Linked DNA regions of Homo sapiens. The protein of the gene in region 1 purifies or fractionates together with the protein of each later gene. This does not show direct contact. Each region holds a gene or a part of one and is shown in the gene's direction. Other genes may lie near its edges. The genes, in order: RFTN2, USP30, POMT1 and RABGAP1L.

Region 1 (8,461 bases):
CTTTATTCTGGACTGAACCAAGAGCATTCTCTGCCCTCAGTAAATATTTATTAGCAAAAACATCCACAGTTGATCAGAGAGTCTGAATGAGCTGGATTGAATTGTTGAGCATTTATACTGTGTAAGGCAGAAGCAGTTTGCAGCAGGACAAGGAAAGGGTCCACTTCACCCTTGAAGACATTCTAGACACTCGCTCAAAATAAACTCAGTCTGAATTATCCATGTAAACTAGTCTGTTCTCACGTTGCTAATAAAGACATACCCAAGACTGGGTAATTTTTAAAGGAAAGATGTTTAATTGACTCACAGTTCCACATGGTTAGGGAGGCCTCACAACCATGGCGGAAGGTGAATGAGGAGCAAAGTCATGTCTTACATGGCGGCAGGCAAGACAGCACATGCAGGGGAACACCCCTTTATAAAACCATCAGATCTAATGAGACTTATTCACTATTACAAGAACAGCATGGGAAAGACCCACCCCCATGATTCAATTACCTCCCACTGGGTCACTCCCACAACACTTGGGAATTATGGGAGCTACAATTCAAGATGAGATTTGGGTGAGGACACAGCCAAACTATATCATTCCACCCCAGCTCCTCCCAAATCTCATGTCCTCACATTTCAAAACCAATCATGCCTACCTAACAGTTCCCCAAAGTTGTTTTTTGTTTGTTTGTTTGTTTGTTTGTTTGTTTTTGAGATGGAGTCTTTCTCTTGTTGCCCAGGCTAGAGTGCATTGGTGTGATCTTGGCTCACTGCAACCTCCACCTCCCAGATTCAAGTGATCCTCCTGCTTCAGCCTCCCAAGTAGCTGGGATTACAGGCGTGTGCCACCACACTCTGATAATTTTTGTATTTTTAGTAGAGATGAGGTTTCACCATGTTGGTCAGGCTGGTCTCAAACTCCTGACCTCAAGTGTTCCTCCTGTCTCAGCCTCCCAAAGTGCTGGGATTACAGGTGTAAGCCACTGCACCCGGCCAAAAGTCTTAACTAATTTCAGCATTAACTCAAAAGTCCACAGTCCAAAGTCTCATCTGAGACAAGGCAAGTCCCTTCTGCCTATGACCCTGTAAAATCAAAAGCAGGTTAGTTACTTCCTAGATACAATGGGGGTACAGGCATTGGGTAAATACATCTATTCCAAGTGGGAGAAACTGGCCAAAATGATGGGGTTACAGGCCCCATACAAGTCCAAAATCAAGTGGGGCAATCAAATCTTAAAGCTCTAAAATTATCTCTTTTGACTCCCTAACATCCAGGTCACACTGATGCAAGAGATGGGTTCCCATGGCCTTGGGTAGCTTTGCCCCTGTGGCTTTGCAGGGTACAGCCCCCCTCCTGGCTGCTTTCATAGGCTGGCATTGAGTGTCTGCAGCTTTTCCAGGTGCACAGTGCAAGCTGTCAGTGGATCTACCATTCTGGGGTCTGCAAGACGGTGGCCCTCTTCTCACAGCTCCACTAGGCAGTGTCCCAGTAGGGACTCCATGTGGGAGTTTCCACCCCACAATTCCCTTCCACACTGCCCTAGCAAGGTTCTCCATTAGGGCTCCATCCCTGCAGCACACCTCTACCTGGACATCCAGGTGTTTCCTTACATCCTCTGAAATCTAGGCAGAGGTTCCCAAACCCCATTTCCTGACTTCTGTGTACCCACAGGCCCAAAACAACATGTGAGCCACCAAGGCTTGGGGCTTGCACCCTCTGAAGAAATAGCCTGAGCTCTACGTTGGCCCCATATAGCCATGGCTGGGATGCAGGGCAGCAAGTCCCAAAATTGCACAAAGCAGCAAGGCCCTAGGTCCGGCCCACAAAAACATTTTTTCCTCCTAGGCCTCCAGGCTTGTGATGGGAGGGGCTGCCATGAAATGCCCTGGAGACATTTTCTCCATTGCCTTGGCAATTAACATTTGGCTCCTTGTTACTTATGCAAATTTCTGCAGCCAGCTTAAATTTCTTCTCAGAAAATTGGTTTTTCTTTTCTATGGTATCATCAGTCTGCAAATGTAAACATAAGTTCCAATTCCAAACCATATCTTTGTGAATACCTAAAACTGAATGTTTTTAACAGTACCCAAATCACCTATTTAATGCTTTGCTGCTTAGAAATTTTTTCTGCCAGATGCCCTAAATCATCTCTCTCAAGTTCAAAGTTCCACATATCTTGAGGGCAAGGGCAAAATGCCACCAGTCTCTTTGCTAAAACATAGCAAGAGACACCTTTGCTCCAGTTCCCAACAAGTTCCTCATCTCCATCTGAAATCATCTCAACCTGGACTTCACTGTCCATATCACTATAAGCATTTCGATCAAAGCCATTCAATAAGTCTCTAGGAAGTTCCAAAGTTTCCCACATTTTCCTGTCCTCTTCTGAGCCCTTCAAACTGTTCCAACCTCTGCATGCTACCCAGTTCCAAAGTCGCTTCTACATTTTTGGGTATTTTTATAGCACCCCCCACCCCCGCCACTCTACTAGTACCAATTTACTGTATTAGTCTGTTCTCATCCTGCTAATAAAGACATACCCGAGACTGTGTAGTTTACAAAGGAAAGAGGTTTAATTGACTCACAGTTCCACGTAGGGAGGCCTCACAGTCATGGCAGAAGGCAAATGAGGAGCAAAGTCATGTCTCACATGGTGGCAGGCAAGAGAGAGCATGTGCAAGGGAACTCCCCTTTATAAAACCATCAGATCTCATGATACTTATTCATGGGATAAGACCCACCCCCATGATTTGACTACCTCCCACTGGGCCCCTCCCACAACACATGGGAAATATGGGAGTTACAATTCAAGATGAGATTTGGGTGGGGACACAGCCAAACCATATCACTGTGACTCTTCTGTGCAGCCTGTGTCTACATGACATGGGTGTAAGGTGGCCATCAAAGCACCTTTTCTGCTGTATAGATCTGAACTAACACTAAGAAGAAAAACATATTAGTATTTATACCTTGCTTTGTTCTCCCAAAGTATGATTTCAACAAATTTCCTTCCTTAGAGATGTCACTGAGGGCCGAGATGTGTACATAACATACCCATCAACAAGAATGATGTGCCAGGAACCTACAAAGAGTTACAAAACAGGGAGAAGGGAGTTCATTTGTATTTGGGTGGAGAGGGGAATGTGGAGGTAGCTCTGAGCTGGTCGTTGAAGATGAGCAGGATTTTGAAGAGCTGGGGAAAAGGACATTCCTGGAGGCAGAAAGGCAGCATGTGCTAGACCAGAGGGACAGGAAACACCCATCTTTTTAACTCTCCTGGTCACCAATGTCTTGTGTTTCAGAAGAAAGCCAGCCGCCACATAAAAGGTGAAGACAAGAATAAAGCCACTAGTAGAAGCATCGGATTAGACACAACCTCGTCACAACCTGCAGAGAGCAGACACCTGCCTGAGGAGTGCCGCCTTTCTCCCTCCCGGGAATGCTGGACAAAGGAGGGAAGGCTGGCACAGCACAACAGCTTCTCTGGGTTCAGCAGCAGTGACAACGTCCTCCGGGAATTAGACGACGGACAGTTTGATCAGGAAGATGGAGTGACTCAGGTCACTTGTATGTGAGCCATGAGGTGAAGCAAAGGAAGGCCCTGTAAATAATTGTTAAAATCATTGCCAACTGACCTTATTGTATTACTTTCTCTGCATTTATGTAATATTTTTGAATTTTTCCAGACCCAGCCTTTCCTCTAATCTATGTAAACTTTGGCACAACCTCCCAGACAAGGAAGAATAACCAACATATTTATACATTTAGAATCATGTTTACACTTCTCTCAACTAAAACATCTGGTTAAACAGATGTTCCATTCGGTTATTACACAATAATCTATTTCAGCTTCTCATGAATGTACAAAGTAGACTTTCTTACAATTCCTGGTAAGGAGACTGAATATCTCAATCAGTATTTTACCCAATTAGAGAGAGTTCTCAGGAAGTTACAGTCTTATTTAAGCTGAAAAATAACCTCTCTCTCTCTTTTTTTTTCTCTCTCTCTCATACACACACACAGCTAATTAGTGCAAATAAATATCTATTTCCCAAATATAATAATTAATCCACATTTTGTCTTTAACTATAGCATGTATATACAAAGCAAGCCCCTATGTGTTAAAATATTTTTTGAAAAAAATCTTTTTTATGTATCTTTGCTTTTAAAGGGTCATGTCACCAACCCTGTACTGATTCATTGTACATAAATGTTGTTGCTCCTAAAAGCCTAAAAATGCAGACAGCAAAGCAGCATCTCTTAAAATTCAATATGAAAAGAACCCATAATCTCAATACATAAATACCTTAGTAGAGAGTAAGATTTAATTTTTTTTTATTTTAAAGTCCAAATACTATGAAGAGGAAAAATATCAACTTCAATTTGAAACTGAAGTCTTTTACATCTGTCTAGATTTGAATTCTGCTTTTATTTTGACTTGTTAAATCCTGAAGAATGTTGAAACCTAGAATTTTCAATCTGGCAGGAGTAGAAAGATGCTCATAGCACACGCGATATGTATGATAACATATTTTGTTTCATCTTGCTTTTCTTTCCCCTTCTAATAGAGGTGGCTTTGCCTTGACCCAGCCTTTAACAATCTTTAAAATTCTACAAAATAAAGGATTTTCATTTATCTATGAAAGGCTTACTTTGAAAGATGGAACCTCCAAGTGAATTACAACTTATTCTATCATTGATGAATTCAGCCTATTATATATTTTTATTAACATTGATGTTGACATTGTAAGATCATTTTAATAATAAAACATCATTTTTATTGTGTTATTGTTTTATTGAACACAAATATTCATATAATATGTTTGGTTTGGGGGTTTTTTGTGGCTTTTTTTGAGACGGAGTCTCACTCTGTCACCCAGGCTGGAATGCAGTGGCACAGTCGCAGCTCACTGCAACCTCCACCTCCTGGCTTCAAGCGATTCTCCTGCCTCAGCCTCCAGATTAGCTGGAACTACAGCCAGTGTGCGCCACCACGCCCAGCTAATTTTTGTATTTTTAGTAGAGATGGGGTTTCACCATGTTGGCCAGGATGGTCTCGATCTCTTGACCTCATGATCTGCCTGCCTTGTCCTCCCAAAATGCTGGGATTACAGGCGTGAGCCACCATGCCTGGCCTTCATATAATATGTTTTATACATATAACAGATATGTATTACATGTTATCAATTATATAGTGTATCTAAACTAAGTCAATCTCCATTAATTGCTGATAAAATTAACAGGAATTATTCCACTTTTATCATCCAGAAGTACAGTATAAAGGAATTTAAGAATATTCTTCTCAGTCTTATTCTATAGCAATAGCTGTCAACAATATTTGCAGAAATGGTTTTTGTTTTGACTTTTAGATGGACTTGAGTTCCATAATCAAGAGTTAGTGGATTTTTGGTAGAAACAATCACTGCTTCAGGAGTCCATAAAACGTAATGAAGTTAGGAAGCACAAAGAACAAATCAGAAAGATCTGTTTTTCCCAATTCCAGGGTCTACAAGAGGTAGAGACTTCTTTATCATTCAGCCCACATACATAGGGGATTGGAAGTAGTAAATTAAAAACAGAGATAGGAATTTATATTTGACTAAGAAAAAACTCAGAAATATAGCAATAACTTTTTTTTTTTTTTTTTTTTTTTGAGACAGAGCCTCACTCTGTCACCCAGGCTGCAATCTCGGCTTACTGCAACCTCCGCCTCCCAGGTTCAAGTGACTCTCCTGCCTCAGCCTCCTGAGTAGCAGGGATTACAGGCCTGCACCACCATGCCTGGCTAAGTTTTGTAATTTTAGTAGAGATGGGGTTTCACCATGTTGGCCAGGCTGGTCTCGAACTCCTGGCCTCAAGCAATCCACCCACCTTGGCCTCCCAATGTGCTGGGATTACAGGTGTGAGCCACTGCACCCAGCCAAGCAATCGCTTTTTTAAAAAATTTGTGTAAGCATACTTTCTCAGTTTATTTTTTTCTCCCCTCCCGTTTATTTTTAATCTGAGTTATTTCTTATTAAAATAACTTTTATTAAAATAAACTTACTAGTCTGTCATATCCTCAAAACTTGTTTTAGAAGCATTTGCTCCAACAATTACCCTTAAGTTATGTGATGAATTTGTATGATAGCGAATAATTTATGATCAAGTGGTTCTAGAGTATTTTAAATGTGTGTAAATAGCTATGAGCCTATTATTTTAAAAAAAGAAAAAAACTTGGGCTCTCTATGCCTAAGGAGTTAAATATGTCTAATTTTATTATCTGCCAGTTGTATATTCAGTTCTTTTTATAACACTATGATTTCCTTAGGGGCTCTGGCATGTGAATTTTTAAAACCTGTAAGTTATAATGAAAGGTATCAAGATCCCAGATGTTGGGTGAAGATCTGCCATTCCCCTTGGTGTAGTATCTATGGCATTTTCATCTTCGTTTTCAATACCAAGTGTTAATTCCATCCCCTTTGGATTGTATACCACCTTGTTATCTTTTATGGACACATTTAACACCTACCTAATCACCAGGGAAATCAGCTCTATCAGTGTCATTACAATTCATTTCAGTAAAAGAGAAAAGGAAAGGTCACCCTCTTTGAGAGATTCTAGGGCTTTCAGGAGGAGGAGAAGCAGGAGACAGAGCTACAGTCTATTCAAATCACAACTATCTCCAAATCATTTGTGTTATCAGGAGCAGGTGTTTATATATTTGAATATAAATGTAACAGATGCATTTTCATTTCTTTCATTCTGGAGTGCCAGAGGAGCTGTCCCGTTTTCCCGCCCTTGCCTGTTATTGATTCCTCACCACCATTCCTTCTTGGCTGGAAGGACTGTGGCCCTTTCCCTCCCCATATGGCTAAAGAGGATTTCTTTCTCTTAACTCTTCAGAGCCCCAGAGTAGTACTGTATGGAAAGTGTAAATTCAGATGGAGAATCAAATGAAGTGAAATTGCTAACAATGGGGATAGTATATAACTAAGAACACATTATATAAAAATGTACTAGTGGATACATAGAAAAACTAGCTAAATGTTACTCATCAGAACTTGTAACATATCAATTTAAATAACATTTGCTGGTAATCTATCATCCCTTGAGAATGAATTTTATTTGTGTAATAGTGCAAAGTTTGCAGAACCAGGTCTGTCAGATATTTAAGTTCTGAGATGGTGTTTGAGGCAGAAAATTAGGCAAAACTGTAAAATGATGAGCCTCAGTTTTGATGAGGTTCATAAAGTTTTGGTGAAGACGACTGCAAAAGAAATGGGTTCTAAACATGTTTTGAGCATTCAAATTTTTGTATGTAAAAATACCAAGTAATTAAATCAATGGAATAAATGAATCATTTATGTGTAAGATAAATGTATAAGTATCAAGGTGAGTTTGTTGTTTGTTTGTTTGTTTTTGTTTGTTTGTTTGTTTGAGACAGAGTCACACCCTGTTGCCCAGGCTGGAGTGCAGTGGCATGATCTCGGCTCACTGCAGCCTCTGCCTCCTGGGTTCAAGAAAAATTCTCCCACCTCAGCCTCCCGAGTAGCTGGGACTACAGGTGCACACCACCACACCCAGCTAATTTTTCTATTTTTAGTCAAGTAGGGTTTCACCATGTTGGCCAGGCTGGTCTTGAACTCCTGGCCTCAAGTGATCCACCCACCTCGACCTCCCAAAGTGCTGGGATTACAGGTGTGGGTCACCACGCCCAGCCAAGGTGAGTTTTTGAAGGTTTATGTAAGCCACATTATTACCTGTAAGCAACAGAACTTAACTTGGCTTATTTAGCAATAAAGGAGTTTTTTGTTGTTTTTGTTTTTTGTGGGTTTTTGGTTTTTGTTATTTTTTGTTTTTTTGAGACAGTCTCACTCTGTCACCTAGGCTGGAGTGCAGTGGTGTTATCATAGCTCATTGCAGTATCAATCATCCTGGGCTCAAGCGATCCTCAGCCTCCCAAGTAGCTGGGACTACAGGCATATGCTACCACACCCAGCTAATTTTTGTATTTTTTATAGAGACAGGGTTTCACCATGTTGCCCAGGCTGGTCTTGAACTCCTGGGCTCAAGCAATCCCTCCCGCCTTGGCCTCCCAAAGTGCTGGGATTACAGGCATGAACCACCGAACCCAGCCCAATAAAGGAGTTTATTTCAAAAGATATCTGGAGGCCAGGCACAGTCACTCACACCTGTAATCTCAGCACTTTGGAAGGCTGAGGAGGAAGGATCACTTGAGGCCAGGAGTTCCAGACTTTTGTTCTACAAAAAATACAAAAATTAGCTGGGCATGGTGGCTGGTGCCTATGGTCCCAGCTACTCAGGAGGCTGAGGTGGGAGAATCACTTGAGCCCAGGAGGTGGAAGTTGCAGGGAGCCAAGACTGCACCACTGCACTCCAGCCTGGGCAACACAGTGAGACCCTGTGCCACCACCCACCCACCTCCAAAAAAATATCCGGAATTGGACTTCATCAAAATTTTAAATTTCC
Region 2 (6,545 bases), on another chromosome or scaffold:
TGTGGTCTGCAGCACTCCAAAGCTGTCCTATTTTAGGCATTGCTGCAGAGAAATGTTCCTTTTATTTCAGATTGAAGCCAAGGGAACGTTGAACGGGGAAAAGGTGGAACACCAGAGGACCACTTTTGTTAAACAGTTAAAACTAGGGAAGGTGAGCCCACACTACACACCCTGTTGGCTTTGTTTTGAGGACTCCGTGTATCCTGCCCCTGAAACAACTCGGTTCTCCCGATTTCTCTTCCACCCGCAGCTCCCTCAGTGTCTCTGCATCCACCTACAGCGGCTGAGCTGGTCCAGCCACGGCACGCCTCTGAAGCGGCATGAGCACGTGCAGTTCAATGAGTTCCTGATGATGGACATTTACAAGTACCACCTCCTTGGACATAAACCTAGTCAACACAACCCTAAACTGAACAAGAACCCAGGGCCTACACTGGAGCTGCAGGATGGGCCGGGAGCCCCCACACCAGGTGTGTGCGCGCGAGGAGCCGATGCAGCAGGAATTTTCAGCACAGAGAAAAGCAGTTTGGCATCACCACCTTCTGGGTCCCTTATGACAGGAGCACAAGGCTTGTACAATGGTGCTTAAACTCTTGAGAACAGCAGGATTGGGGGTGGAAGAGGGAAGATTTCTTAGAAGAGGTTAAAATTATGTAGCAGTGAGATGTATCGTTTTTGAAACCATATTACAGATGAAAAAGTACAGAGAGAAACGCTTAAAATTGCAGCTTTGCCTTCTAATTTTTCCGCTAAATGATATAATCATTGGCTCACATCATTCCAGTGAATTTCTTTTTTCGGTCATGTCATTTCCTGTCAGTAGAGGAAATGTAGGGAGGACATGTCCTGGCTAAAGATCACTGAGCCTCTTCTGGGGGTTGAAATGCCTTCTGTACTGAATTATGTATCTGATTCCATTACTGCCCTCAGCTGAGGTCTCATTTAAGCCGGGTAGCTATTATCGCCGGTCTTACTGATAAGAACATGGAGGCTCCACGGGGTTGAATGATTGGTCCAAGGGCAAACACCACACAGGAGAACTGGCCCTAGAATGCCATGTTGGGCCATTTTCTAAAGGTGTCTCATGTGACACACTGAGTTCTTTAGAGTTAGACATGAGGAAAACCCACTCACTTGAAGGGCTCACAGCCTGAACTCACCACCTGTCTGCTGCCCCCAGTTAGGTCAGGATTGTCTCACACCCCATACTTTCCTATTTAGGGTCCCTTACTCCTTTTGTTCTTTTTATGACCACAGTTGCATGGCCCGACACCTCATCATGTCAGGGAGATTGTGTTTTCCTCTTTCTCATCAAGTCACTAGATTAACATCGAAAAGAGATGAGGTAGGGGACAGACTCTGGTTCAGTCCTTGGCCCTGGTTTTAAATCAAAGACCTCTGCACCCCAGCTTCCCCATCTCCTGGGCTGGGGTGCAGGTTTACTAATGTTGAGAGCATGCTGGCTGTGGTTAAAGATGCCAGCAGTAGGGCCACTCGTGGTGGCTCACACCTGCAATCCCAGCACTTTGGGAGATTGAGGTGGGAGGATTGCCTGAACCCAGATGTTTGAGGCTGCAGTGAGCTGTGATCACACCACTGTGCTCCAGCCTGGGCAACAGAGCAAGATCCTGTCTAAAACACACACAAAAAATGTCATCAGGAAACTACTTGGTACATAACAGCCCCCAAAAATGACACTTGAAAGGAAAAGACATGTAAATATGGCCTTAATTATGTTGTCTACCCATAAACATGTATGAATGCTATTACACGTTGGTATTCCTTAGAAGCTGACAGAATTAAAGCAAATAGAATGCTTAGATCAGTGGTTCTCAACTTGGAGGAGTTTTGCCTCCCAAGGGACATTGGGCAGTGTCTGGTAACATTTTTGGTTATCACTACTGGGGGAGGGGTGCTACTGGTGTCTAGTGGGTAGAGGCCAGGGATGCTGTTCAACATCCTCTAATGCACAGGACAGCCCCCGCAACAAAGAATGATCCAGCCAAAACCATCATGGTGCTGCTGTTGAGAAACCTTGGTTTAGGTCAAAAGCCAGTAAATTAGCTACTGATTAACTTTGATACATGGCATTAGCAAACAGGGCTAGGAAGCTCAAAGATCCCAGGCTAGCCGTAAAGCTGGAGCTAGATACACTTTTCCTATTTGGGATTAAGACAGATTATCCCTATTTGAGATTAAGGATAAAGGGCAGATTATTTTATGAATCTATATAATACCAAATGAAATAGATTTTTTTCTTTGTAGCATTATGGGGAGTTAACTTTCAAGGTAATCAAAACCAGGTTTTGTTTACAGAGCCACTGCTAATTTTCATTGACTCGGGCCTTTTTCTCTTGCAGTTCTGAATCAGCCAGGGGCCCCCAAAACACAGATTTTTATGAATGGCGCCTGCTCCCCATCTTTATTGCCAACGCTGTCAGCGCCGATGCCCTTCCCTCTCCCAGTTGTTCCCGACTACAGGTGAGCCACCCTTTACAAGCCCCATCTTAGAGCTACCACTGCTCTTAGCTTCTAAAATTAGCTTTTCACAGAAATGAATTAAGGAAAATATAGATGTTTATTTTTCATTTTAAGGTGAAGTTTCACGATTACACATTCCTATTTATTTTTGTCCAAAATGGAAATAACTTTTAAATTAAAAATTTTTAAAGTACATAAAATTTACATATGCATATGTATGTGTGTATATATGTGTGTATGTATAAAATATAAAGAAAATTTAAAATTTCTTGGGATACCATCTAGAGATAGCCAATTAAACACTTAGGGTCATGCACTCTATAAAGTTGTACATCACACATACATATAGTGTACATAAACACATACACTCATTGATACAAACATCCACATATACACAATATACATATACTCATAGAATGTACATCTTGCCATGCCAGTAAATACAGATCTGTATTTTAATAGTTGTGTAGCATTTGGTGGTATGGACTTACCATTGTATTCATCCCCTATTTAACATTAGCATTCTTTTGTTTTTGCCTATAAAGTCTTTTTGTTAAAATTGTAAACCCCTGACATGTGTTCGTATCATTCAGCTCCTCCACATACCTCTTCCGGCTGATGGCAGTTGTCGTCCACCATGGAGACATGCACTCTGGACACTTTGTCACTTACCGACGGTCCCCACCTTCTGCCAGGAACCCTCTCTCAACTAGCAATCAGTGGCTGTGGGTCTCCGATGACACTGTCCGCAAGGCCAGCCTGCAGGAGGTCCTGTCCTCCAGCGCCTACCTGCTGTTCTACGAGCGCGTCCTTTCCAGGATGCAGCACCAGAGCCAGGAGTGCAAGTCTGAAGAATGACTGTGCCCTCCTGCAAGGCTAGAGCTGATGGCACTGTCTGCACTGTCCAGGAAAAAAGTAAAACTGTACTGTTGCGTGTGCAAGCGGCCCCACTAGAGCCTTCCAGCCTTCTGGTGTGTTCTAAGAGCAGGCTCCACCTGGGAGCCAGCCCCAGTTCACACCAAACCAGGCTCCCTGAACAGTCCTGTTCATGTGTGTAGGTGGTTCTGTTGTGTTAAGAAAGCATTCATTATGTCCGGAGTGTCTTTTTACTCATCTGATACAGGTAATTAAAAGAACTCAGATTCTTGAAGCCACCGTTTTCATATTGTAATGTTAGGTGTTCTCAGAGGGGAGGTACCTTTGTCTAATCAACGTTTCCACTTAGATCTTTTATTTTTAATAAGCAGGCCCATAAAAATTGTTGACAAGAATTAATGAAATTATTAAAGGCAACAATTTAGAAGAAAAAGTGCCTTTCACTTTCGATTGCTTTTGTAGCACGTCCATTGTGAAATATTCCTTCCAGGCTACTCAAAGGATAGCAAGAGAACAGGTAAATGATGCCTAAAGAACACCTTCCTTTTTCTATGCCTTTTCTAATCTTTCAATTCTTTCTATGGAGTAAAGGCTCATCTGCCAAATCTGCCCCCTGGGGAAACTCTTTCACTACTTTGTCAGTTATAAGTGAAGAGCTTACTTGTTGCTTTTATCTTTTGTATATTGGACTGAGATGTAATTACACTGTATTATAAAACTCTGTGAATAGCCAGAACTGAGCTGGATCTTTGCAACACCTGATTCCTCTGCTCTGTGGAAAACTTTTTCTTACACAAGGATCCACTGTGGACGGTTACTTTCATCTGTTTATTTATTGCCCATGCAGAGCTCTTAAGGTTTACAGGTGGGAGCTTGGGGCTGTATAAAAAAATAATCCCTGCCCTGAGTTGACACCTGGCTTAGGAAGGAAGGGCTGACTATGGGGCTGCAGTCTCTCTGAACCTCAGTTTCCTCATTTGTGAAGTGAAGGGTTAGATTTGATGACCACCAAAGTTCAGCCCTTTTCACGAAAAGGAGAAAGCAGCTTTTGACTTTTTAAAAAACATATAACTACAGCTGGCATCTAGTATTGTCATGTTGCTCTAGGTCCATATTCTGAATTTATTCATTTCCAATAGCCTAATACAAAAAGTATATATTGAGCACTTTCTTCCCTTTTCAGGTAAGTCTCTGAATGCAGCCCAGGGCCAAAGGAATTTTGATGACACAGTAGTACCTATGTTTTAAGCTATATTTTTAATTTAGAAAAATGGATACCAAATTCAAACCGACTCATCAGAGGTAAGATTTGGAATCAGACCTTTCCAAAAGGTCATCTGAGGTAAGGCTAAGACCGCACTTCCTCTGCTGGGGGTGAGCTGGCAGACACACCAAACAGTGCCTTGGCAGCAGCTCACAGTGCAGGAAGCCCAGGTGATCACTCTTCTGCTGGGCCCAGGCTGCACCCTGAGGACTCAGTAACTCACTCTCAACAGAATATTCTGTGCAGGCTCTCCAGGCTCTGGGCGTCAGGGTGCAAGGGGCAGCTTGAACTGTACGGTCCGTCCTGCACTCACCCGATGCAGACCTTGACTTTGATGTTGAAATGAACACACTTGTTTTACCCAAGTCTGGTGGAACAAATGCCCAATCATGTGACCTTAAAGTGTACTGCAAAGCTGTAGCTTTAAGTAATTGCTGTTCTGCCACTGCTTACTCTGAAATCTACCATCAAAGAAAGATAGAGAAAAGGGGCTGAGCCTTGGAATATATGGTTATAAGCAGATCTTTCTTTGGTCAGAGACCAGGGTTTGAGCCAAGGCTGTAAATGTGAACAATAGCTGTGCAAAGCCTTTTAACCTGACTTCTTCATTTTGTAAATTATTATGCATTAAGTAGCAGCCCAATAATCTGATTTCTAGTTTTATTTTCAAAGTAAGTAGCTTCTTTTGGGAAAAACCTAAGTTAAACTAGTAGTTTTGCCATAATAACTGCTGATTTATGTATTTGCTAAAGGTACTTTTGTATCTGCTGTGTATTATAGCAATAAAATAATCATTTTGTTAGAAAAAAATCACCTGGTGTTCTTTTGTAATACACTGATCTGTTACAAACATCATCTTTCTGAATTCTGCATTGTTACATAACAAGCCCTACGCTTTAAACCTTTCTGTGTTCCCTGTTGGTAAGGGAAATGCCAGCTCCCTCTTAGAGTCGAGAGGGAAAGAGAAAAGAGAAAAACTGTTAAAAATGTTTTTATTTTTTAGTAAGCAAAATTTTACGAAAAGTCAGATTCACCCGTGGAGCCAGAACCTTCTTTCTCACGGGAAGACTGTGGTACCAGTGCGTGTTGGTCGGGTGGTTCATCATTAGTAAGCTCCCGTGGGCCAGCGGCAGCCTGACCACCGCCACCCTCCTGGAGGGGCTTTTCCCACGGGAATCCTTATGCCGGAAGACAAAGTCTCTGCAGGCACCGAAGGAGACAGAGGCAATGGGGCTCCCAGGGGCCAGTTCTCTTTCATCATCTCGGTGCTCCCCGATGTGGTCACAGCCATCTTTATACCTGCAATGAGAAAACAAACACAGTGCATAAAAACAACCCTCTCCTGAAACTCACCAGCACCGCCAGCCCTCGTTTTCCTCACAGTGTGAAACAGCACTCTGCATGGCTGTACCTGCCGTTGTTTCTGCGAGGGCTTGAGGTCCACAGTGGGCTCTAAGATAAGCCAACGCTGAAGAGGTCTGTTGACGTATTTGTTCATGTGACTTATTTATTATTATTTTTGAGAGGGTCTCGCTCTGTCACCCAGGCTGAAGTGCAGTGGCACAATCATAGCTCACTGCAGCCTCGGCCTCCTGGGCTCAAGTGATTCTCCCACTTCAGCCTCCCAAGTAGCTGGGACTATAGGTATGCACCACCCCACCTAGCTAATTTCTTTTCTTTTGCAGAAACAGTTTCACCATGTTACCCAGGCTGGTCTCAAACTCGGGCTCAAGCAATTCACTCTCCTTGGCCTCCCAAAGTGTTGGGATTACAGGCATGAGTCACCACGTCCGGCCAGTTCATGTGCTTTAAAACTGAAGACACCCAAAGCCAAAATCACGTCTTACTGTAGTTCCCCTGGCCAGTCTATGTAAACCTTTATCACATGATTTTGCCCTGCACTCAAAGGCCATACTCTGCATAG
Region 3 (6,925 bases), on another chromosome or scaffold:
TTAAGGGGGAAAACAAAAGATGACTTTATTTCACATTCAAGAAAATCAGTTCAGTTCCAAAGCTGTGGTCCTTCCAGCCACTTCTAGGGACACTGGGGAACCTTGTTAAACGTTGACATCAGTGCTCTCCAGCCGTGCTGTCACCCTCCTATCTTCTGGATCTGCCTTCGCGATGGTCAGTGACAGCTTCTGGAAGCTGAGCACACACAGGTGCACAGCCATGCTGTGGTCTGGCCTGCTACGGCAGCATGGCAGCTCTGGTGGAGCCTTCTCCCTTGCCATTTGGTTCCCCTGTGCCAAGTAGCTGCAGGCTGCCCCTCAAATCTTCATTTGTCCCTTTTCACTTCCTGCAGAACAAGCCTGGGTTAGAGGGTCTGCTGGAAATGGCCTTTGAAGACCAAGGATACCAGGATGTGTGCACTCTGTCGTGTTCTGTGATGAATGGGAAACGTAGGCTTCCAGAAAGCCAGCTCTCTTCTGAAATGTGACGGACCTAAGCAGGAAGTCATCCAGGACAGGAGTGGCTCAGTGTTGGGGATGGACGCTGTCGCCCAGCCATGCTCCACCAGGGCCACCAATGTGTAGTTGGCTGGTGGTCTTCGGGCATGTGAGACCTGCTCTTCACTGTTTCCACCCCACTTGGTGGCCTCCAGGATGGTAGTGGCACCCTCAGAGCCCCATCTTCAGCATGTTCTGAAGCCTCAGAGTGGAAATTCCTGCTAAGGCTCTGTGTGGACGCCTTTCTCCCGTGATCTAAAGGGGACACTGTACTCAAGCTTTTGACCTCATGCCTTGTGTAGTAAAAAAGGATTTGGGGGTTTTGTTTGGTTCCTGAGAGGGTTGTGTTTTGTTTTTGTTTCCTTTTGTTTATGTTTTGGCCTTTCCTCTTTGTCTTTCCATGTAGACCAGATATTTGAAAGGGCAGACGATGGCTAGAGGTGTAATGTGCAGCTTGTTTATACGGTATTTTGGGAAACTTACCTTGGATGGGAAATCGAATCGTGGATTCACCAGGCCGGTGCTGGCACACTCACCCTCGCCCTTTCCCTCCGGTTCAGTACCTATTGTTTCTCCTTTCAAATATGTGATTGTACTAGCTCTTTCCATATGAAAGAATTCTCCTTATTTAAATAAAAAAAGTTTAAAAAGATAAAGCTGAACGTGCTTTCTCAGGTTGTACATCCCTCGTTTCTTGGTCATTTGACCAGAGAGACCTACAGATCAAAGAATTCTAATTTTACAGAGTTCACACGGAAATTAGGAGTGGCACGGCTGAAATGCCTTAACAGAAGCTGTGTGGGTAGAGAAGGGATTGAAACCCGTGGCTAAGAAGCATCTTCCAAATGCGGCAGCATCAAGCACTCCACCCTCTTCCCACGGATGGCATCTGGTTGTGCACAGTGCCTGCCTGTGGCCCCGTCACTTGCCGTGAGAAACGAGCTGGTCAGAGGAGGTAAGCATTTGATGTGGCGTGTTGTGTTGTCACTTCTAGCGGTGCTTTTGCAGGAAGTGGAGGAGGATTATGCTGTGCTTTGGGGTGGGGAGGGAGCAAGCCAGGCCTGGGGTAGCGAAGGGTAAAAGGTAAGAATGGGCTGAGGCAGCAGTTCTCGGTTTTGCCATTGCCTCACTGACCTGGGGAAAGACGTTTCACCACCTGAGTCAGTCTCCTTAATCATAAAACACAGATTGTAATGGTATCGACCTCATGGCGTAGTGTGGATTCAAAGTCACCAGTAGCTTTTAGCTTAGTGCCTAGAACCAGCTAAGAAAACTTATAAATTACCCCCAAGAAATAAAACGCTGTTTCCATGAGGAACCCCAGTCCCTCAACTTCCTTCTAAGCCTTTTGACTATGGAAGAGAGTTGGGGACCTGGCCATGGGCATCTCAGCTTTAACTAGCCACACTCACTGCCCTGATTTACTGCTCCCTAGGGACAGGTGGCTCACAAAATCTCAAACGGAGACCAGCCCTGAAAGAGGCTAGTCCTAAGGTTGGGGGCTTGCAAGATGGAGGCTGTAAGTCCTGAGGCACCACCACTGTTAGCATGGCATGAACCAAAGCTTAACAGCCCAGCCCCACTCCCTCCTGGGGCCCAGGGAACCCTCCCTGCCCACTGTAAATACAGTTGCCTGCAGGCTCTGGCCACAAACCCAGGTGAGCCCCAGCTCCTTGCCTCTCTGTGGGATCTTGGGTGAGTCACATAACCCCTCAAGGGTAAGCCATAAAGAAGTAACCACGAAATTCTAACTGGTGTCATCTAATGCTATGTTGCCCAACATGGAAAAAAAGTCTTGCAGGCAGCCAAGAACCATAATGAAGGTTATTAAACCTGCAGTGTGCCCTTTTGGTCTGTATAGATTAACATACAAATAGACCAGGAGATCAAGAAGGAGCGAGGCTGAGAAGAGTGATCCATCAGCCTGGTTGCGTTGCTGTCAGTTACCCTGCTCTGGGTGCCGACTGTTCAGGGAAAACATGGGAAGGGGTGCATTGACCCAACCAAAAGTACCATGTCTGCTCCAAAGCAGGCCTTTGGGAAGGCTCTTGACCCTCAGCAGAGGGGGCTGGAGAGGCTGATGGATGAGGAGGAGCCCTGGGAATGGAGGAAGAAGCCTCCAGTCTTCTGCCACGGAGTTTAGGGGAGATGCCCCCACTGGAGCCTCTGATGGTCATGCAGCCCCCACTGATGTCCAGGTTTTTTTGGTTTTGTTTTTTGTTTTGAGACGGTCTCACTTTGTAGTCCAGGCTGGAGTGCAGTGGTGAGACCAAGGCTCACTGCAGCCTCGACCTCTCTGCCCCAAGTGATCTCCTGCCTCAGCCTCCCTTGTAGCTGGGACTGCAGGCAGACGCCAAGGGGCCCCGCTAATTTTTGTATTTTTTTGTAGAGACGGGGTCTCGCTGTGTTGCCCAGGCTCTCCTGGACTCAAGCGGGCTCACGGATCCTCCCACCTCGGCCACCCAAAGTGCTGGGGTTACAGGCGTGAGCCACCGCCCCCGGCCCTAGGTCCGTTTTAAATGCCCTTACCCTCAGCCACTTCACCGCTAGATGTATGTGCAAGCAGGATCGTGGCATCGATGTTTTTCGGCAAGGAAACTAGGAGCGCCCGCGGGCGTGGGGGCACGTGCCTGTGGTCTCAGCTGCTCTGGAGGCCGAGGAGGGAGGATCGCTTCGGGCAGAGAGGTCGAGGCTGCAGCAAGCCGTGGTCCTGCCACTGTACTCCAGCCTGGGCGACAGAGCGAGACCCCGTGTCTTAAAAAAAAAATTAAGGTCGGACGCAGTGGCTCACGCCTGTAATCCCAGCACTTTGGGAGGCCGAGGTGGGCGGATCACTTCAGGTCAGGAGTTCGAGACCAGCCTGGCCAACATGGTGAAACCCTGTCTCTACTACAAATACAAAAATTAACCGGGCGTGGTGGCGTGCGCCTTCAATCTCAGCTACTCGGGAGGCTGAGGCAGGAGAATCGCTTGAACCCGGGAAGCGGAGGTTGCGGTGAGCCGAGATCGCGCCATTGCACTCCAGCCTGGGCAACAAGAGCGAAACTCCGTCTCAAAAAAAAAGAAAAGAAAAGAAAAGAAAAAAACTAGGAGCAAACTGGCGCGCCCGGCAGAACGCCGTTGTGCAGACGCAGAATTAAGATCTTCACGCCAGATGGAGTGAAAAAGCAAGGAGCAGAAGATGGGTGGGAGCCCACTGCGCTTTTTAAAATCTGCACGTCTGCTTAGAGTACACAGAAATCCTGGCACACAAAACAGTAGCACCCGAGAGAGGGGAGGTCGCCGCGTTTCACACCTGCCTCTCCTCCGGGACCGGCGCCCTCGCCCGCTGCGCACGCGCGTCACCCTCTCCCAGTGCGCACGCGCGCTGCTGCCCGTCTGGCCCCGCAGGCTCGGTGAATCGAACGTTGAGCAGGGCGGTGGGTGGTGCGGAGTGCCGAGCGGCCTCACCCCCAACCGTCGGCCCAGTCGGACGGTTCCGAGGCGTTGCCGGGAGCCGGGCGCGGCTCTGTGTGGACTCGGAGAAACGCGGGTACATTTGGGGACACCGGGGACGAGAGCCCAGCCCGGACTTGGGGGAGTCCGTCAGTGCCGGACGCGGGTCCCTGGCTTGCGGACGGGCTGGGGCCGGGGGCGTCCCCGTCTTTCCGGAGCTGGGGGCGGGGTTCGGGCCCGGGCAGATGCGGCGTTCGGGCGGCCGAGCCCCGAAGTAAGAACTCCGTGGCGCGTGCAGCCCTAGGGAGGAAGGGCGTGCTGCGGGTGCAGTCTCAGGGTGAGGACGGAGCTGGGGCCGACGCAGCCTCGGGAGTTGGTGGACGGGACAGGTGCGGCCTGTGGGGAAGAAGGGCCGGCCAGGGAGATGCGGTCTGCAAGGGGAGAGGAGGCACTCCCAGGACAGATGGGACCTTTTGGGACGAAGGCGCTCAAGGCAGATGCAGCTCAGGGAGGGAAGGGCGCGTCCAGGGTAGATGGGGCCTGAGGAGACCAGCGGGGCGCCAACGGCCAGATGCGGCTTTGGTGTGAGACAGGGTGTCCCAGGCCTGATGCAGCCTCAAGAGAAGCGGAGCTCAAGGGAAGATGAAGCCTGGAGGAGAACGTGGGGGCGCAGGGTGCAAATGCACCCTCCAGGCGAGAAAGGGAGCACCCGGGGATGATGTGCCGCTGGGATAGAAGGCAGGGAGGCACTGGGGGCAGATGCATCCTTGAGGAGAGATGAGGAGGCCCCGAGGCTCGGCCAGGTTGGGGTCCCTGGGCTGTAAGCAGCTGAGATGGCACCCAGGAGCTGCCCAGGGTCAGGTAGCTGTGGCCGCACTGTGGGCTTCTGGTCGTCGGGGAGGGAGGGGAGAAACCCTGGCGTTCCTTAGCAGTGTTCTCGCGCCCAAGACGTGCTCGGCAGGTTTTGTGGAATGAGTTGTTGAAAGGAGTGAATGTCCAGTCCTGAGATCCCCTGAATTCCCACCCGAGTTCACTGCTAGTGCCCCTCACCCCACATGTCTACCTGAACCAAGGCTCCAGGAACTTCGGTCTTTCTCAGCAGCCCGGCTGTGCTGTGGTTCTCCTCGTGTGTCCGGGAGCCGGGTGGCTGGGGATCCCTTCTGTAGCCTCTCGTGAGCCCTCATGGACCACGGCTCCTCCCTTCTTTTCTAGGGCGTCTGCCTGAGCCCGCTTTTCTACAAGATGTGGGGATTTTTGAAGCGCCCTGTAGTGGTGACGGCTGACATCAACTTGAGCCTTGTGGCCCTGACTGGGATGGGGTTACTGAGCCGGCTGTGGCGACTCACCTACCCGCGGGCTGTGGTGTAAGCTAAATGACTCCATTCCCAGGGTGAATCTAGAATTGTACTTTGTGACAGGAGGCGCCCTTACTGAATAGCATAAATGGGAGAGTGAAATCCTGGCTTCTTGGTGATAGGTGTTTTTGGCAGTGAGAGGAGAGACCAGTCTGTCCCCAGGACAGCCCCAGCAGAGTACACCTTTTAGGTCTTGCCTTCTGAGTCTGTAACAGGTGAAATTTGGCCCATTAAAGGGGTGCAGTAGAGGAAAATCTGGTTGCCAGCCTTAAGTAACAGTTTTAAAGTCTGGACGGCAGAGGATTAATGGATTTGGAAGTAAGTCTTCACTGTTGAGAGCACTTTTTAGAATGTGTTTTTGTCATAATGGGAAGTGATTGCTGTTATTATTGAAGGGCTCTTTATTAACTGATTAATGTGTGTATGTGTGTGTGTGTGTGTGTGTGTGTGTGTGTGTGTGTTTTTGAGACGGAGTCTTGCTGTGTCGCCCAGGTTGGAGTGCAGTGGTGCCATCTCGGCTCACTGCAACCTCTGCCTCCTGGGTTCAAGCAATTCTCTGCCTCAGCCTCCCGAGTAGCTGAGATTACAGGTGCCCGCCACCACACCCAGCTAATTTTTGTATTTTTAGTAGAGACGGGATTTCACCATCTTGGCCAGGCTGGTATTGAACTCCTGACCTCATGATCCACCCACCTGGGTCTCCCAAAGTGTTAGGATTACAGGCGTGAGCCACTCCGCCCTGCTGCATGTTCTTTTTTGTTTAACTTTTTATTATGGAAAACGTCAAACATATACAAAAGCAGGGAGACAAGTATAATGAATGACCCCCCCACACACACCAGTATTTTCATTACCCAGCTTCACCTTATCAGTTCACAGCCAGGCCCCTCCCTGCAGTGGTTTTTACTTTGCAGCAAATCCTAGTATTCATAGATAATTCAGCGGTATATCTGTAAAAGATGAGGATTTTTTTTTTTTTTTTGGAGACATAGTTTTACTCTGTCGCCCAGGCTGTAGTGCAATGGTGCGATCGTGATTCTCCTACTTCAGCCTCCCGAGTACCTGGGATTACAGGCACCTGCCACCACGCCTGGCTCATTTTTGTATTTTTAGTAGAGAAGGGGTTTCACCATGTTGGCCAAGCTGATCTTGAACTCCTGACCTTGTGATCCACCTACCTTGGCCTCCCAAAGTGCTGGGATTACAGGCGTGAGCCACCGTGCCTGGCTGAGGATTCTTAAAAACAAAAATCACATAACCACAGTTGCATTATCATGCCTGAGAAATTGACAGCAGTTTCTTGGTTATCTTCACCTCTCCCTGATTGAAAACATGTTATTGCAGTTGATTCCCACGTTTTCCTTTCATACTTGCAGCCGTTTCATTGGGTCATCGCTAGCCACAGACATGTGCTGCTGGTGGGGGCGGGGGTGGGGGGGTTGGGTAGGTGGGTAAGCAGGATTAGCCTTGCGTCCCAGGAGGTCTTTCAGCAGGTTGGCTCATAGTATCCACCTAAATCAAACACAAGGGAGAGACAGAATCTGTATGGGCAGGCATGCTGAGTGCCAGCTGTGCTTGGTGAATTCCCCATGTCTCTGTGGGTGGGTGATGCTGTATGCATCTTAATATTTGGGGAT
Region 4 (9,531 bases), on another chromosome or scaffold:
AAATCTCTAGCAACATCAGTGAGTGCCTGAGGACATGGAGGGGTATGAGTCAGAGTAGGAGGGAGAGATTACAAAGGGGCATGATGGATATGTTTACTCTTGATTGTGGTGATGGTTTCACAGTTGCGTACATATGTCAAAACTTGTCAAATTGTACACTTTAAATATGAATAGCTTATTGTATGTCTGTTATATCTCATGAAGATGTTAAAAAGGACAAACAAAATCAACATCCAAGCAAGTTCAACAGATCCTTCTTCTCACTTATATGTATGCAATTTATTTGCTGAAGAAACTTGGTGGTATGTCCTATAGAGTTTCCCACATTCTGGATTTTATTGATTGCAAAAAGGAATCCTTATCTTTTTTTTTTTTGAGACAGGTATTGCTTTGTCACCCCCTTATGGCTCACTGCAGCCTTGACCTCCCAGGTTCAAGCGGTCTTCCTACCTCAACCTCCCAAGTAGCTGGGACCACAGGTGCGTGCCATCACCCCTGGCTAATTTTTAAATTTTTTGTAGAGATGGGGTCTAGCTATGTTTCCCAGGCTGGTCTCAAACTCCTGGGCTCAAGCAATCCTCCTGCCTCGGTCTCCCAAAACGCTGGGATTACAGGCCTGAGCCACCATGCCTGGTCAAGAATTCTTATCTTTTAGAGCTTTATATGATGAAGTATTTATGGGTGATATCCATGTGAGGGGTGGGGAAGGAGATTGGCCACATATTGATAATTGTTCAAGCTGAATGACTGACTCATGAAGGCTCATTATACTCTTCTCTCTACTTTTTATGTGCTTAAACATTTTTTATAAGAAAAAGTTGAAACAAGTCCTGGGGCCTATCTTAGAGGTACTGAATTTCTTGGGGGTTGAGCATAGAGATATGCATTTTTATAAACTCCCAAGGTGATTTTGTTATACACTACAGAGGATCACTGCCCCACATAAAAGAAAAGGACTCCTATGGTGAGATGAATTTCAGACACCTACCATAATGTATGGGAAAAACCATTTTTGGTAGGTGTCCTTTACATTAAGTATCAAATTCTAAAAGTAGTAGAGGCTGGGCATGGTGGCTCATGCCTGTAATCTCAGCACTTTGGGAGGCCACGGTGGGCAGATCACTTGAGGTCAGGAGTTTGAGACCAGCCTGGCCAACACGGTGAAACCCCGTCTGTACTAAAAATACAAAAATTAGCCAGGTGTGGTGGTGGGCACCTATAATCCCAGCTACTTGGGAGGCTGAGGCAGGAGAGTCACTTGAACCCGGGAGGTGGAGGTTGCAGTGAGCCAAGATCGCACCACTGCACTCCAGCCTGGGTGACAGAGTGAGACCCTGTCTCAAAAAATAAAAAATATAAAAAATAAAAGAAATAAAAGTAGTAGGCTAGCTATTCTTCCTCAAGAGACATTTAGGGCCAGGCGCAGTGGCTCATGCCTTTAATCCCTCCCAGCACTTTGGGAGGCTGAGGCGGGTGGATCACCTGAGGTCAGGAGTTCGAGACCAGACTGGCCAATGTGGCGAAACGCTGTCTCTACTAAAAAAATACAAAAATTAGCTGGGCATGGTGGTGCGTGCCTGTAATCCCAGCTACTCCGGAGGCTAAGGCAGGGGAATTGCTTGAACCCGGGAGGCGGAGGTTGCAGTCAGCCGAGATTGCGCCACTGCACTCCAGCCTGGGCAGCAAGAGTGAAACTCTGTCTCAAAAAAATAAAATAAAACAGGCATTTAGATCTCTGCCTGCCTCTTCTACTGCTGAGGAAATTTTCTGCTCCCTATATACATATTTTATTGTGTTCTTAGTCTTAAATGGGCGATTGCAACACAGGTTTGGTTTATCATATAAGCTCATTATGACTTGTCCAGATTACTCTGAATTTCAGCCCTACATAAAACCGTGAAATAAAAAAGGTTTTCTTCTGTATCTCCAGTTTTACCTGTTACATCTTTCGCTCTCTCGGTGATTTCTCCCTTCCTCCAGTAGCCAGTGCCTCTTTTCCAAATCTTCCTGTTAGTAAAAAAAAAAAAGACTAAAAAATCATGTGATAAACTCATTTATATAAGATTAGTGATTCGAGTCATGAAGTGCTCTTCTTGGGCAAAGTTGATTTAAATAGGGCACAGGATTTAAGTCAAAGTGAAAAAAAAAAAAAGTGTAACGATGGGCTTTCAGGCATCAGGTAGCCCAGTCAGGGAAGGATTTTTTGGTGTGGTCAAATTCCTTTCAAGACCCTGTAAAATCTTGCCAGACAGCTTGTTACCTTTCTATCATTGGAAACGTATCCTTGGAAGAGTCATATAATGCAACTAAAGTTATTTGTTCCATAGTATGCATGGAAAGATTTAGCTTTATCTGTAAGAAATACAAAGCCAAACTCGAACCTTCTTAAAAAGCTGTCAAAATCAGGCCGGGCACGGTGGTTCACGCCTGTAATCCTAGCACTTTGGGAGGCCGAGGCGGGTGGATCACCTGAGGTCAGGAGTTTGAGACCAGCTCGGCCAATATGGTGAAACCCCATCTCTACTAAAAATACAAAAATTAGCTGGGCGTGGTGGTGGGCACCTGTAATCCCAGCTTCTCAGGAGGCTGAGACAGGACAATCGCTTGAACCCGGGAGGCAGGGGTTGTAGTGAACCGAGATTGCGCCACTGCACTCCAGTCTGGGCAACAGAGTGAGACTGTTTAAAAAAAAAAAAAAAAGCTGTGAAAATTTATTGTCTCAGAGGAAGGGGTAGGCTTCAAGCTGGGTTTGAGTGCTTCCATCATGTGTCAGCTTCATCCTCAGGCTGGCTTCCTCATGGTAGCAAAGTGGCTGCAGTAACTATTGGACTCACATCTACCCATCACACTAGCCAGAGTAAGAAAAAGAGCACTTTTCATTTCCCAACAAACACAAGATATGGCCTTCCATGTGACTGGCACCAATTTAGACTCATGTCAGTGCCTATCAGTGAATACTGACAGGTCAAGTGAGAATGGGATTAGGCTGATTATCACAATCACTGTCCACACCTGGAGCGGGAGATGGGCCTAATCAGATCCTTGGCTGTCTTGCAATTGCAGAGGGGTGGAAATATATTCTGGGGAATCAATCAATATAATGCTCACTATAAAATCAATATGATATTCTGTACCATTAGATACCAGTTTAAACTCTTACATTATTGTTCAATGTTTAACTTGTTTCTAATTTTTTTTTTCTTTTTTGTGGAGACAGGGTATTGTTATGTTGCCCAGGCTAATCTTGAACTTCTGGGCTCAAGCAATTCTGCCTTGGCCTCTCAAAGTGCTGGGATTACAGGCATGAACCACTGCACCTGGTCTGTTTCCAATTTTTGATATTACATTTTAAACTAGGAGTTGCAGACATAAATGAGAGAAACAACACTGTAAGATACAATAGAGAATGTAGAGACTTTGGCAAAAGAGAGAATGCATGTCCTGCAGCTGATCGTTATCATGTAATAATGTAAGCTCACTGTTACCAAATCTTCCACTTTTTAAAGAGAAGCCCAAAATGCATGTATAATCTTCTGGTTTTTAACTTTGGATATGTGTTTTTTTAAGCACCATGTATGCCAAACAAAACATGTTTGTGGGTTTGATTTGTACCTGGGGCACCAGTTTGTCATGTTATGAATCATGCTGGAGTATTTTATAACACCATCTCTCAAAGTGAGAGTTTCAGTCCTTTCATGGACCAGGGCTGCTAGGATACGCTTAATGCAAATGAAGCCACAGTGGAAAGAGAAGTGAGCAGCACATACCACATGAAGAATGCTTTGTTATTAATTTTTTATTCCTTTTAGTTTCTCGACTAAAAGCCTGAAGATCTGTTAATAATTTTTTGGCATGTGCTTAGAATTGTTTTTCTGGTGGTAAGGATGAGTTTGCATCAGATCACCTTAATTGTCTTTTATCTAGGTTCTCTCATGACTTGTCTCTTATCTATGTTGTACTGTGAGGAAAAGTTCAGTTTTAAAGAATGACCCCTGTTGATGAGAGGTGTTACATGTGGCCATGGGACAGGATTTTTCTTTTCCTTATAGCAAGTTGGCACATGAAGATAGCATGCTCCACTTAAATAGAAGAATTAACTCGCAGTGGCCAGTGGTGTCCACTATTGCTTTCAAAGACATATGGAACTGAATTTGGGGAACACTAAACTTGTTTTGGACTTGCCATTTTTTTTTTAAATTCTTTTTTAGCTAAGTTACCTATTGAATGCCCATAATTACCACATCCATTGTCCTTTTTTGTCAAAAAGCTTCACTCCAGTTAGAAGATACCTGAAGGCAGAAACTGCGGCTTTGTCAACTGTTGATTTCCTCATGGCGCGCAGTGTAAATTTACTAGTACTTTATTTAGTAGAGGCTTAGTACTTACTGGTTGGCAGATTTATTAATAGTTCCTGTACATCTCAGGAAATCAACAGATGATTTATGTTATTCTAACCCTAACTTTATTAAATATAATAAAAACTTTCAGCATTTATTGTCAGGCCCAGGGCTAGGTAGGCTCCTGAGATACAGAAGTTAATAAGGGAAGCAGCCCAGAAGGTAGGGGAAACAAAAAAATAGTTACAACACTCTTGATATGTCTCAGCATCTATAGACATTAACATCAGGAAAAGCGGGGGTGTGGGGGGAAGGAATTTGTCAGGGAGGGCCCTTTGGACAAATGTCACGTTTCTCAGAGTAGCTTTTAAATATGGGTGGGAAAATGAGGGCAGGGGAATTGAAGTGGGATAGAAGGGAGATATTTAAACTAAAGTCATTCTATGGCTGCAATCACTGGACACTATATTCACTTATCCATGCAATCACATTCATTGAGTGCTTCCTATGAGTTAGGCAGGGTGCACAGTGTAAGATACAAATGAATGATACAGGTTCACAGCGGTTGTCTAGTGGGATAAAATGCTGCACAGGGCAACCTGGATAAGCCTGACATGTTAGGTGCCACAAAACTACAGAACAAAGTGCTAAGGAGATTCGGAAAATTTACAGGTCATTTCTGGTTGCAGGATCTAGAAGAAGGATGTCCACAATTCAAGGATCAGTACAATCTTCGTAGCGAAAAAGCGTTGGTTTATTCTACCTCTACCTAGTTTGTACCTCAACATCTTTTACCCCAAAGGATAAAAAGGTGCAAATGAGGGCACATTTTCTTCATATAATACGTAATGGTGCTTACTTATTGCTTTCCTGTTCATTCCCCGCAGGTGATTTCCCTCTTCAGTCTCCCCCGAGTCTCACAGAAGGAACTAACAAGGGAGCGCTTCACAAGCACACAGACACCTTCAAACAGGCGCAGAAGAGTACTTGGTGAAAAAGTATTCTTTCAGGTGACTTTCCTTAAGATTACTGAGCATTAAGAATGAAAATATGTAAACCAGGTTTACGAGCAAGAAAATAATCTCTCCACATTCAGAGTTAATCTTCCGAACTCAGCAACTGCCAGTAGAACGCACCCCGGTCAGGGCGGGCTCGCGGGCGCGGTCCCACCCCCAGGCCCCTCCGCCGCGGAGGTTCTCCAGCGCCGCCCGTACTCCCGCCTTTCGCGCGTCCCTGCTCTAACAGCTCTGGTTCTGTCAGGACCTCACTCCTCCGCTCCCGGCGCAACCGCGGCCACGCAGCGACGTGCACGCGCGTGTGCGCCGCCGCCGCCCGGCAGAGTGGGCGCCTCCGACATCAGGAGCGCGCACGCCGCGCAGAGGGGCCTGGACGAGCGCGCTTCCGACCCGCCGCCACCGCCTCCTCCCCTCCTTCTCGGCCCGCCCCCTCCCTCGCCTCTTCCTGCCAGGCGGCCCTTCTCCCCTCCCCTCTCAGTTCCCTCCGCCCTCCTCGGGCTCCAGCGGTGGCGGAGCGAACGGGACCGGCCCGGCTTCAGAGCGCGAGGTGGAGGGTGGAACGCGGGCGCCTGAAGGAGTTGTTGTCTCGGCAGCGCCCGCGGAGACGTGAAGAGGTGAGGCGAGGACGGCCTCCTAGGGACACGAGGGCGGCCCGGCGGCCCGGATCCGCGGGCCGAGGCTGCCTGGGTGTGTTGGCGTCGGGCTGAGCCTGGGGAGGGTCGAGATGGGGCCCCAGCCGAGGACTGGGATGCGGGAGGACCGCGGTAAGGAGGGTAGGGGGCGGGTTCAGGACTGTCGGCCGCCTCCCGGACACCGCAGTTCTCCCAGGTGGCCGCTCCTCGCGGATAGGGCGGGCGGGGTCGGCGCCCTTACCTGGGGGTGGGGTAGTGGCTTTGGCGGCCGCCTCCTCCAGCTGTGCCCTCCTGACATTGCTGCCTCGGCGGCTGCCGCCCGCTGCTACGCTGTGGCTGCTGCTGGATTCGCAGTCCCAGCCGCCCTGCGTCCGGTGGGCGAGTGGTTAGGGTATTTTCTTACCCACACGCAGGCTTCTGTACTCGACCATTTCTCTCCCTCGCCCTTCCTCTTCCTCCGCCGAGCACTTTGCTCGGCTCCTGCTGTTGATGCTTGTGGTTTTGCAGTTTGGGATGGGATGCGTTCCGGGCAGATCCCTACCTGTAGGGAATGCCCCGCTTCAAAGTTGACCTCCTGAGCCATGACAAACACCTCCCCCCAACCCCCACCCACCTTGTGAGTGCTCAGTGTCCTGATAACTGAGTCAAAGTTTCTGAGACTGGGCTAGTACTTTGCACTGGTCGCCAACGGTACAGGGCTGGGCAGTGCGTCAGCATGTGGAAAGGGGCCACCGGCTAGCGGGAGGTGGCCGGGTGCATGGGAGCTGAACTGACGGGTTTCAGATACTAGGCAGTGTGTCCAGGTCCTTGGATCTCTCAGATAGGGTTATATTAGAATATGTACCAAAACTTGGGTGGTCACTTGCAAAATTGGTTTCATGCAAGTAAACTGAAATGCCAGCCTTATTACACTAATGGTAAGGAGAACTTTTGCTTGCCTGACAGATTTCAGCGCAGTTTGGAAAATGATTTTAAGGCCTTTATTTTTGGCACTGGAGGGGTTTAGGGATTTTTAATACATTTAAATTTCCTCGTGCATAGTGGGAGGTAAGTAGTTGCTTGTTAAAATTCTGAAAACACAGTTTCATGAAAACCTTCTGACTTTTCTTACAGTAGTGTTTATATTTGGCATCTTCCGTAGAATATCCATTAGTTATGATGTCAGAAGATACGGATGTGAAGTTTGCTTTTTGTGATCACATTGGAAGTGGATTTTGTTCATGGAAAATACTGGTTCACAAGCTCCTAGTACTAGAAAACTGGCCTGTGATTCATTTTCTCAGTAGAGCGTCCCTTATGAAATTGACAATGAGATTTCTAAGGAGAAAGACTAGTTGAACTTTATGTATACATTATCATCAAATTGTATTAAATGTACACCTGCCTGAGGGGTTAGCTCTAGACTTTGAGTTAGACTGGTGTCTATACTAAATCAGTTCAATAAATGCGCTGATATTATGTATTATTCATTTGGAGAGAAGTAGATAAAGCAGGGCAGAGTTTATATTTTAACATATTATGTAGCCTACATTTGCTCTGATGTGTATTATTATTATTATTATTATTATTATTATTATTATTTTTGAGACGAAGTTTCGCTCTTGATGCCCAGGCTGGAGTGCAACAGCGCGATCTCGGCTCACCACAACCTCCGCCTCCCGGGTTCAAGCGATTCTCCTGCCTCAGCTTTTTGTGTAGCTGGGACTACAGGCATGCGCCGCCACGCCTGGCTAATTTTGTATTTTTAGTACAGACTGGGTTTCTCCATGTTGGTCAGGCTGGTGGAACTGCTGACCTCAGGTGATCTGCCCGCCTCAGCCTCCCAAAGTGCTGGGATTACAGGCGTTAGCCACAGCGCCCGGCCTCTGATGTGTACTAGTAAGTCATATGGGGAGAAGTAGATGAAATAGGGTAGAGCTTATATGTGAACATATTATATAACCTACATTGTCCTCTAGAAAGCTGGAAACAAGTTAGTAAGTCTCAGTACTATTGGGGCATATGGTGAATATACAAACCAACCTAAAAAAGTGTGACTGTAAATAGATGAAGTTTGTTTGTTTCTTTTAAAGAGACAAGGTCTCGCTCTGGCGCCCAGGCTGGAGTGCAGTGGCTCAGTCCTAGCTCACTGCAGCCACGAAGTTCTGGTCTCAAGAGATCCTCCCACCTCAGCCTCCTGAGTAGCTGGGACCACAGGCACATGCCACCAAACCTGGCTAATTTTTTGTTTTATTTTTGTAGAGTCAAGGGTCTCACCATGTTGCTCAGGCTAGTCTCCAACTCCTGGCCTCAGGCAGTCCTTGCGCCTCAGCCTCTCGAAGTGCTGGGATTACAGGCCTGAGCCAACGGTGCTTGTCCCATTTTTTTTTTTTTTCACCTGAGTTATTTGATGGGAATTTCTATATATTACAGTTGCGATGTTCTGAGAATTTTTGTTTCTTTGATAATTGTTTCATGATTTAGATGTTTTCTTTTTACGCTGGTAGTTATGATTTTTTTTTCCTTTGAATGAAAGAATTTTATTAGGCATGTGAAACAGGAGTTTTCATGTGATCAGCTCTCCAGTTCTAAATTTGTGACTTTTAAAAAACTTGAATTTTTTTCTTTGCCTTAACCCAAACTTGAATTTGCTCAGCCATTGTATATTTATTTGAACTCTCAGATGATACAGCATTGAAGCAGAAAGTCCTTTTATCCATGCTTTTGGAGTAATCAAAAGAAGGAATTCTGTTGTGCCAAGTAAAAATATGTGTGGGAGATAGCTAGGCTTCAAGAGATTGACTTTGAAGAGAGTAGTGGCTAAGTAGCAAAAATTTCCTATATTGAAGGTGTAGAAGTGGGCCTGCATTCCAACCTACCATTGTCTTCAAGTGGGGTATGGATCATTATGACTGGTTAGAGGGGGTTTGGAGAATGAAGTTGTTGCTGTAAGCCTATGGGATTCCCAGGCACAGAGCTTGCTTATGTCTTAATTTTAATGAGTTCTATATTTTTATAACTCTTGACTTATATAAATGGGTCAGCCGTTGAGTCTGAGGATGACCAGCAGCCCAAGGCTATTCCAGGTGCTGGTATTTCTTTTTTTTTTTTTTTCTCTTTCTGTTTTTTTTTTTTTTTTTTTTTTTTTTAATTATACTTTAAGTTTTAGGGTACATGTGCACATTGTGCAGGTTAGTTACATATGTATACATGTGCCATGCTGGGAATTGAACAATGAGATCACATGGACACAGGAAGGGGAATATCACACTCTGGGGACTGTGGTGGGGAGGGGGGAGGGGGGAGGGATAGCATTGGGAGATATACCTAATGCTAGATGATGAGTTAGTGGGTGCAGCGCACCAGGTGCTGGTATTTCAAAGATGGCTCAGGGGTTTCTTGTGGAGATGATCTGATGAGCATTTTGCCATTACAAACAGTGGAGGCGGAGAAAGTACGGACTTGAGCCTGAGTTATGGTAAAACATACTCATTTTTAAAGGAGAGTTTTAATGCTGATATTATAGAGAAAGACATTGTTTGACTCCTAGACTTTCAGAACGGGAAA

The links.
Region 2: the proteins of RFTN2 (region 1) and USP30 purify together in Homo sapiens (affinity purification with mass spectrometry; 2 studies listed by BioGRID and IntAct, with this or other methods). This does not show direct contact.
Region 3: the proteins of RFTN2 (region 1) and POMT1 purify together in Homo sapiens (affinity purification with mass spectrometry; 2 studies listed by BioGRID and IntAct, with this or other methods). This does not show direct contact.
Region 4: the proteins of RFTN2 (region 1) and RABGAP1L purify together in Homo sapiens (affinity purification with mass spectrometry; 2 studies listed by BioGRID and IntAct, with this or other methods). This does not show direct contact.

The regions. Positions count from the first base shown.
Region 1 is NC_000002.12:197,567,111-197,575,571, reverse strand, and holds the end of RFTN2 (raftlin-2), read left to right. Parts: intron 1-2,540; exon of another isoform or gene 2,541-3,291; coding exon 3,292-3,564; 3' UTR 3,565-7,348; downstream 7,349-8,461. UniProt on the Homo sapiens protein: Upon bacterial lipopolysaccharide stimulation, mediates clathrin-dependent internalization of TLR4 in dendritic cells, resulting in activation of TICAM1-mediated signaling and subsequent IFNB1 production.
Region 2 is NC_000012.12:109,082,593-109,089,137, forward strand, and holds the end of USP30 (ubiquitin carboxyl-terminal hydrolase 30), read left to right. Parts: intron 1-70; coding exon 71-151; intron 152-250; coding exon 251-470; coding exon of another isoform or gene 471-581; intron 582-2,360; coding exon 2,361-2,481; intron 2,482-3,074; coding exon 3,075-3,339; 3' UTR 3,340-5,431; downstream 5,432-6,545. Other genes in the region: DNA oxidative demethylase ALKBH2, read right to left, coding at 5,614-5,920. UniProt on the Homo sapiens protein: Deubiquitinating enzyme tethered to the mitochondrial outer membrane that acts as a key inhibitor of mitophagy by counteracting the action of parkin (PRKN): hydrolyzes ubiquitin attached by parkin on target proteins, such as RHOT1/MIRO1 and TOMM20, thereby blocking parkin's ability to drive mitophagy.
Region 3 is NC_000009.12:131,499,044-131,505,968, forward strand, and holds the start of POMT1 (protein O-mannosyl-transferase 1), read left to right. Parts: upstream 1-3,874; 5' UTR 3,875-4,030; exon of another isoform or gene 4,031-4,270; intron 4,271-5,145; 5' UTR 5,146-5,175; coding exon 5,176-5,297; exon of another isoform or gene 5,298-5,606; intron 5,607-6,925. UniProt on the Homo sapiens protein: Transfers mannosyl residues to the hydroxyl group of serine or threonine residues. Coexpression of both POMT1 and POMT2 is necessary for enzyme activity, expression of either POMT1 or POMT2 alone is insufficient.
Region 4 is NC_000001.11:174,153,691-174,163,221, forward strand, and holds the start of RABGAP1L (rab GTPase-activating protein 1-like), read left to right. Parts: upstream 1-5,829; 5' UTR 5,830-5,967; intron 5,968-9,531. UniProt on the Homo sapiens protein: GTP-hydrolysis activating protein (GAP) for small GTPase RAB22A, converting active RAB22A-GTP to the inactive form RAB22A-GDP. Plays a role in endocytosis and intracellular protein transport.